2 separate regions of the Homo sapiens genome follow, and region 2 is linked to region 1. The links come from fine-mapping of genetic effects on gene expression. A gene starts in region 1. The other region holds a variant in brackets. All regions are shown on one strand. Distances are from middle to middle.

Region 1 (2,906 bases):
TATAGAAATCCACAATGCCAACATTTTAGAAGTCTAGAATGTGAGAATTTCAAATTGTCAGAATCTCCAAACGCTGTAATCATGGTACTTTGGGATTCCATAACCCTGTGACATCAGCATGCCAATGTCTTATAACCTTGGGATGTAGACATTTCAGAATCCCAAGATCCAAGAATCTCAGCTTTCTGGAATCCCAGAACTCAGGAATACTGAAGGGCATGGCTTGGCATGGCAGGATGTGGCTCGGTGTGGCATGGCATGGGGTGGCTGGCATAGTAGGATGTGGTATGGTGGAATGGGGTTTGGCCTGGTGGGATGTGGTGGGGCTGAACATGTTGGGGTCCAGCTTGGACATGCTAGGGCCTGGCAGGATGTGACAGGGTAAGGTGTGGCTCGATATGGATGAATGTGGGAGGTCTGATATGGCCTGGCATGGTGGCACACGGTATGGCAGGCACTTACCGAGCCTCCAGAGGAGGCGGCAGGCGAGGCAGATGGCAAGGAGCAGCCAGATCTGGTCAAGGCCCTGCTGGGCAGTAGGCAGGAGACAGCCTTGCAGTAGCTGCTGGAAAAATTCCTGGCGGCTAAAGGTGGCCATTGCAGACCCCCACGGATGGATGGCCAGATGGATAGATCTGTCAAAGCAGGGACACAGAGGGAGCGGGTGTCCGTGGGGCAGACCTCGCTTAAAGGATGCACTCTGGCACTCACATTTCAGTTTGGGGCTGCCCAGCCCATGTAGAGGCACGGTACTGGAGGACTGGGGGAAGGCGTGAGAAGTCAGGTACATCAGACTGAGCCACCAACTGTGTGCATGTGGGTGTTCGGCATGCACACGCACAGCCTGTGACCTGGAGTGAATGAAGGACCTCTGTCTCTCCAGTGCTGTGAACAGTCCAGTCCGATGGTGATGGGATGGCATACATTTCAGGCCCATATATCAAATGGGGCGGGCGACGGGAAGGGGAATCCCTGGTTTCCAAGGTAGAGTCGCTCTGAGTGGAGGGCAGAGAGGGGGATTCTGTGACACTTGGGGGCCGTGTGCATCTCTCCTTGTATGGATGCGGCGGCACGGGGAGGGGGGGTGTCCTGTATCCTCCGCGCCCCCCATCTCATCCCCACCCGGCGAGAGGCCGCCAACAAAGTCCTGCCCAGGTCCGGGGGCTGCAAGGAGGTGGTGGTAGGAGACATAGCCTGAGGGAGAGTCGGAAAGGTGATGGGGAGGGGGTCCTAGCACTCGCGCTACAGATCCGCCTGGGGAGGCCGGCCCAGGGATGGGAGCTGGGGAGCCGCGTGCGCACTACTGGCGACCTACCTGGCAGGAAAGAAGCCGTGGTCCTGGGGACCGAGGACGCGCTGCCGCCGCCGCTGCCTCCTCCGGGCAGCCTCCCCCGCAGGCCGCAAGGCCGGGACCAGCAGCGGCTCCCAGAGCGGCGCGGCGAGCGGGCCCTTTAAATCCCGGGGCGGCCCGGCCGCCGGCTCGGCCAATGGGAGAGCAGGAGGGGGGCGGGGACGGGGACGCGGAGGAGGGGAGCAGGAGGATTGAGGGGAGACCGGCGCGGGGGGACGTCGGCGCGCAGGACGTTCACGCCCGCACCTTTCCGGCCTGTGGCGGTTTCAGCCCCAGACCGTCTGCCTCCGGAGGATTTCTGGCCATCCAAGAACAAACTTCCGAATCTCCAAATTTCCAAGCCTTGGAAGTGAGAAGGGAAAGATGGGGGAGGGAGGAGGGAAGCCGCTGCACCCCCAAATAGTCACCCGCGCACGTCCTCTAAATACCGTGGTGTCCCCGTTTCACAGATGGGAAAACAAACCGAGATCTCTCCTTCCCCAACCTTTGAGAGAACCGAAGTAACTCCCAACCCTCCCACCTCCTGGGACCGGCCAGGAACATTTATAAGTAATGACTGTGTCACCTAGGAACACAAATTAGGCGCCTGTGCTTCCCCTGGGGACGAGCTGTGAGCACTTGGCGTGTCGTCGTTGAGAAGTGATTTGCATGCTTAATTCCCCAGCAGACTCTTTGCTTCGAAGGTGACCCCAGCGACTAGTAAATGTTCTCTGTGAACTAGAGGGAGGCTAGTACCGAGCACTTAAAAGGGGGGCATTTATAAAGCTCTTAAGGGCCAGGCTCGGTGGCTCACGCCTATAAACCCAGCACTTCGGGAGGCCAAGGGTAGGAGGATAGCTTGAGGTCAGGAGTTCGAGACCAGCCTGGCCAACATGGCGAAACCCCGTCTCTACTAAAAATACAAAAATTAGCCAGGCGTGGTGGCGCACGCTTGTAATCCCAGCTACTCGGGAGGTTAAAGCAGGAGAATCAGGAGGCAGAGGTTGCAGTGAGCCAAGATCGCGTCATTGTGGGCTACAAGAGCGAAACTCCGTCTCAAAATAAATAAATAAAGACTGGGCGTGGTGGCTCACACCTGTAACCCAGCACTTTGGAAGGCCGAGGCGGATGGATCACCTGAGGTCATGAGTTTGAGACCAGGCTGGCCAATATGGCGAAACCCTGTCTCTACTAAAAATACAAAAAATTTAGCTGGGCGCCTGTAATCCCAGCTACTCCGGAGGCTGAGGCAGGAGAATCACTTGAGCCCAGGAGACGGAGGTTGCAGTGAGCCGAGATCACGCCATTGCACTCCAGCCTGGGTGACAAGAGCAAAACTCCTTCTCCAAAATAAATAAATAAATAAACAAGAGCGAAACTCCTTCTCTAAATAAATAAATAAATAAAATAAAAAAGAAAGCGCTTACACTGGCCCCATCCGCACCTCTATCTGCACCAACACTAAAGATTTATGTAGCACCCGCCTTCTACCTACCCTACTGCTGCAGTTTCTAGGCATTCCCCTTTGTACCTAGGCTGATGAAGGGCCTATTTTTCCAAAAGAGCACTTACTGGG
Region 2 (2,906 bases), 20 kb before region 1:
GCTGAGGTGGGTGGATCATCTGAGGCCAGGAGTTCAAGACCAGCCAGGCCAACATAGTGAAACCCTGTGGTTGCAGTGACCTGAGATCGTGCCGTTGCACTCCAGCCTGGGCCACAGAGCAAGACCCTGTCTCCAAAAAAACAAAAGAGAGTTTTGGGCTGCTGGGATGGGGGTGAAGGTATTTTGCATGCAAGGACATGAATTCTGGGAGGCCAGAGAGAGCAGAATGTTATAGACTGAACTGTGTCCTCCCCAAATTCATATGTTAAAGCCCTAACCCCCAATACCACAGAATGTGACTATATTTGGAGATAGGGACTTTAAAAGGGTGGTTAAGTTAAAATGGGACTCATAGAGTGGGCCTAATCCAATACAAATGGTGCCCCCCACTTTTTTTTTTGGGACAGAGTCTCACTCTGTTGCCCAGACTGGAGTGCAGTAGTGCCATGATGTTGGCTCACTGCCACCTCAACTTCCCAGGTTCAAGTGATTCTCCTGCCTCAGCCTCCCAAGTAGCTGGGATTACAGGCATGTGCCACCATGCATGGCTAATTTTTGTATTTTTAGTAGAGATGGAGTTTTACCATGTTGGCCAGGCTGGTCTCAAACTCCTGACCTCAGGTGATCCACTTGTGTCAGCCTGGGATTATAGGCATGAGCCACTGTGCCTGACTGGTGCCCACCCCCCACCTCCTTTTTTTTTTTAAGACAGGCTCTCACCGTGATCATGGCTCACTGCAGCCTACACCTCCCTAGCTCAGATGATCCTCCCACCGTGGCCTCATGATGCCCAGCTAATTTTCAAAATTTTTTTTGTAGAGATGGGGTTTCACCATGTTGCCCAGGCTGGTCAAATGGTGTCCTCATAAAAGGAAATTTGGGCTAGGCATGGTAGTTCACACCTGTAGTCTCAGCTACTTGGGAGGCTGAGGTGGGAGGACCACTTGAGCCTAGGAGTTTGAGATCAGCTTGGGCAACATAGTGAGACCCCATCTCTACAAAAAATTGAAAAAATATTGCCGGACATGGTGGTTCACACCTGTAATCCTGGCACTTTGGGAGGCAGAGGCGGGTAGATCACCTGAGGTCGGGAGTTCGCGACCAGCTTGACCAACATGGAGAAACCCCGTCTCTACTAAAAATACAAAATTAGCTGAGCATGGTGGCACATGCCTGTGATCCCACCTACCCGGGAGGCTGAGGCAGGAGAATTGCTTTAACCCAGGAGGCAGAGGTTGTGGTGAGCCAAGATCGTGCCATTGCACTCCAGCCTGGGCAACAAGAGTGAAACTCCGTCTCAAAAAAAAAAAACAAAACAAAAATTAGGTATAATGGCATGTGCCTGTTGTCCCAGTTACTTGGAAGGTTGAGGTGGGAGGATCACTTGAGCCCAGGTGTTTGAGACCAGCCTGGGCAACATAGTGAGAGTCCATTGCTATAAAAAAAAATAAATATAGCCATGTGTGGTAGTGCACACCTGTAGTCCCAGCTACTTAGGAGGCTGAGGCAGGAGGATCGCTGGAGCCAGGGAGGTAGAGGCTGCAGTGAACCATGATCATACCACTGCACTCCAGCCTGACACAGAGCGAGGCCCTGTCTCAAAAAAAAAAAAAAAAAAAGGAAATTTGGACACACAGAGAGACACCAGGGACAGGGACGCTAGTTCATAGAGACCATG[T/G]GAGGACACTGAGAAGGTGGCCACCTGCAAGCTACGGACAGGGGCCTCAGGAGAAGTCAAACCTGCTGACACCTTGATCTTGGACTCCAGAACTGTGAGAAAATGAACTTCGGTGGTTTAAGCCTAGTCTGTGGCATTCTGTTATGGCAGCTCGAGTTAAGACCAGGGGACTGTGGGGCCAGTGATAGGGTCTGTGTAGTGAGTTATGGGGTCTGGCGGGGGGTCAGTGATAGGGGTTTGTGAGGTCAGAGGTGGGAGGTCTTTAGATGCTGATGGGGGTCTGGAATAAGTGAATGATGGTGGGATCTGTGGGGTCAGTCATAGCGCATCTCTGGGGTTAGTAATTAAGGATCTCTCAGTGTTAGAGTCAAGATCTTTTATTTCCTGATTTTAAAAATCGTCACCATCATAGACCTCCTGGCTTCTCTTGTATCTGTGTTCTAATGGCTCCCAGCAGTGCCTTCACACAGCCCCTTTATTCCCCTTCTTGTGCCTGCCCATGAGCCTGAGTGTGACAGATCAATTAGCTTTGTCCCTCCAAACTGTGGGAGCAGGACTAGACTCTTCTGGCAGGCAGAGAGCTCCTCCTCGGCCAGTGTTCGAGCCTGGTCCACCACTCCTCAGTTCTTCTTGCTCTTGGCTTTTGTGGCCTTGGCATCCAGCGTGCTCTGGGCATGAGTGAGGTGCTTCACAGCATCAAGCACAAGGACTCCAGGCAGCACCAGCCACAGGGCATTCATGAAGACAAAGTAAAACCAGAAGTAGAGAGGGTGGCCCAGCTCTCCGTGCTGGAATCCGTCGCGGTGCTCTGTCAGGAAGTAGAGCACATCCCCATAGATCTGGCCTGTGGGTGGCAGGAGGGGAAGGAGAAGCCCCAGTGAGGAAGGGGACACTTTCGCCAATTCTCTATTCCAAAGCACTTTCCAAGTCATCATTCAAGGTCTCAGAGCTAAGTATTCTGAAATCACAGAGCTGAAAATCTGAGAAATCAGAAAAGTGAGATTCCAGACACCAGAGAGCTGAGAATTTCAGAACTCAGGAGAGCTCACACCTTCAGATTTAAGGAAGTTCAAAATCCTCAAATCCAAGACAGCTTAGGATTCTGGGACTAAAGATAACTCATATCGCTAGAACTAAAGAAAGCTAACAATTTAATAACACAAGATGACTGAGGCCGGGCACAGTGGCTCACACCTGTAATCCCAGTACTTCGGGAGGCCAAGCCAGG

Evidence for each region. PIP is the estimated chance that this variant, and not a neighbour inherited with it, causes the effect.
Region 2: its variant is the best candidate, but not a certain one, in a credible set for the expression of PORCN in whole blood (TOPMed, PIP 0.60).

Annotation. Positions count from the first base shown.
Region 1 is chrX:48,507,513-48,510,418 of GRCh38, reverse strand. PORCN (porcupine O-acyltransferase) reads right to left here and starts at 1,427. Exons shown (of 15, transcript NM_203475.3): 1 at 1,316-1,427; 2 at 463-635. The coding sequence starts at 598. It overlaps PORCN-DT (PORCN divergent transcript), which reads left to right and starts at 1,580. Exons shown (of 2, transcript NR_135596.1): 1 at 1,580-1,700. RefSeq lists a silencer at 1,201-1,600.
Region 2 is chrX:48,527,850-48,530,755 of GRCh38, reverse strand. It overlaps EBP (EBP cholestenol delta-isomerase), which reads right to left. Exons shown (of 5, transcript NM_006579.3): 5 at 2,040-2,522. The coding sequence ends at 2,299. Among named protein-coding and RNA genes, the nearest start is that of EBP, 7.5 kb to the right of the region's middle. The variant T/G (reference allele first, on the strand shown) is at 1,679.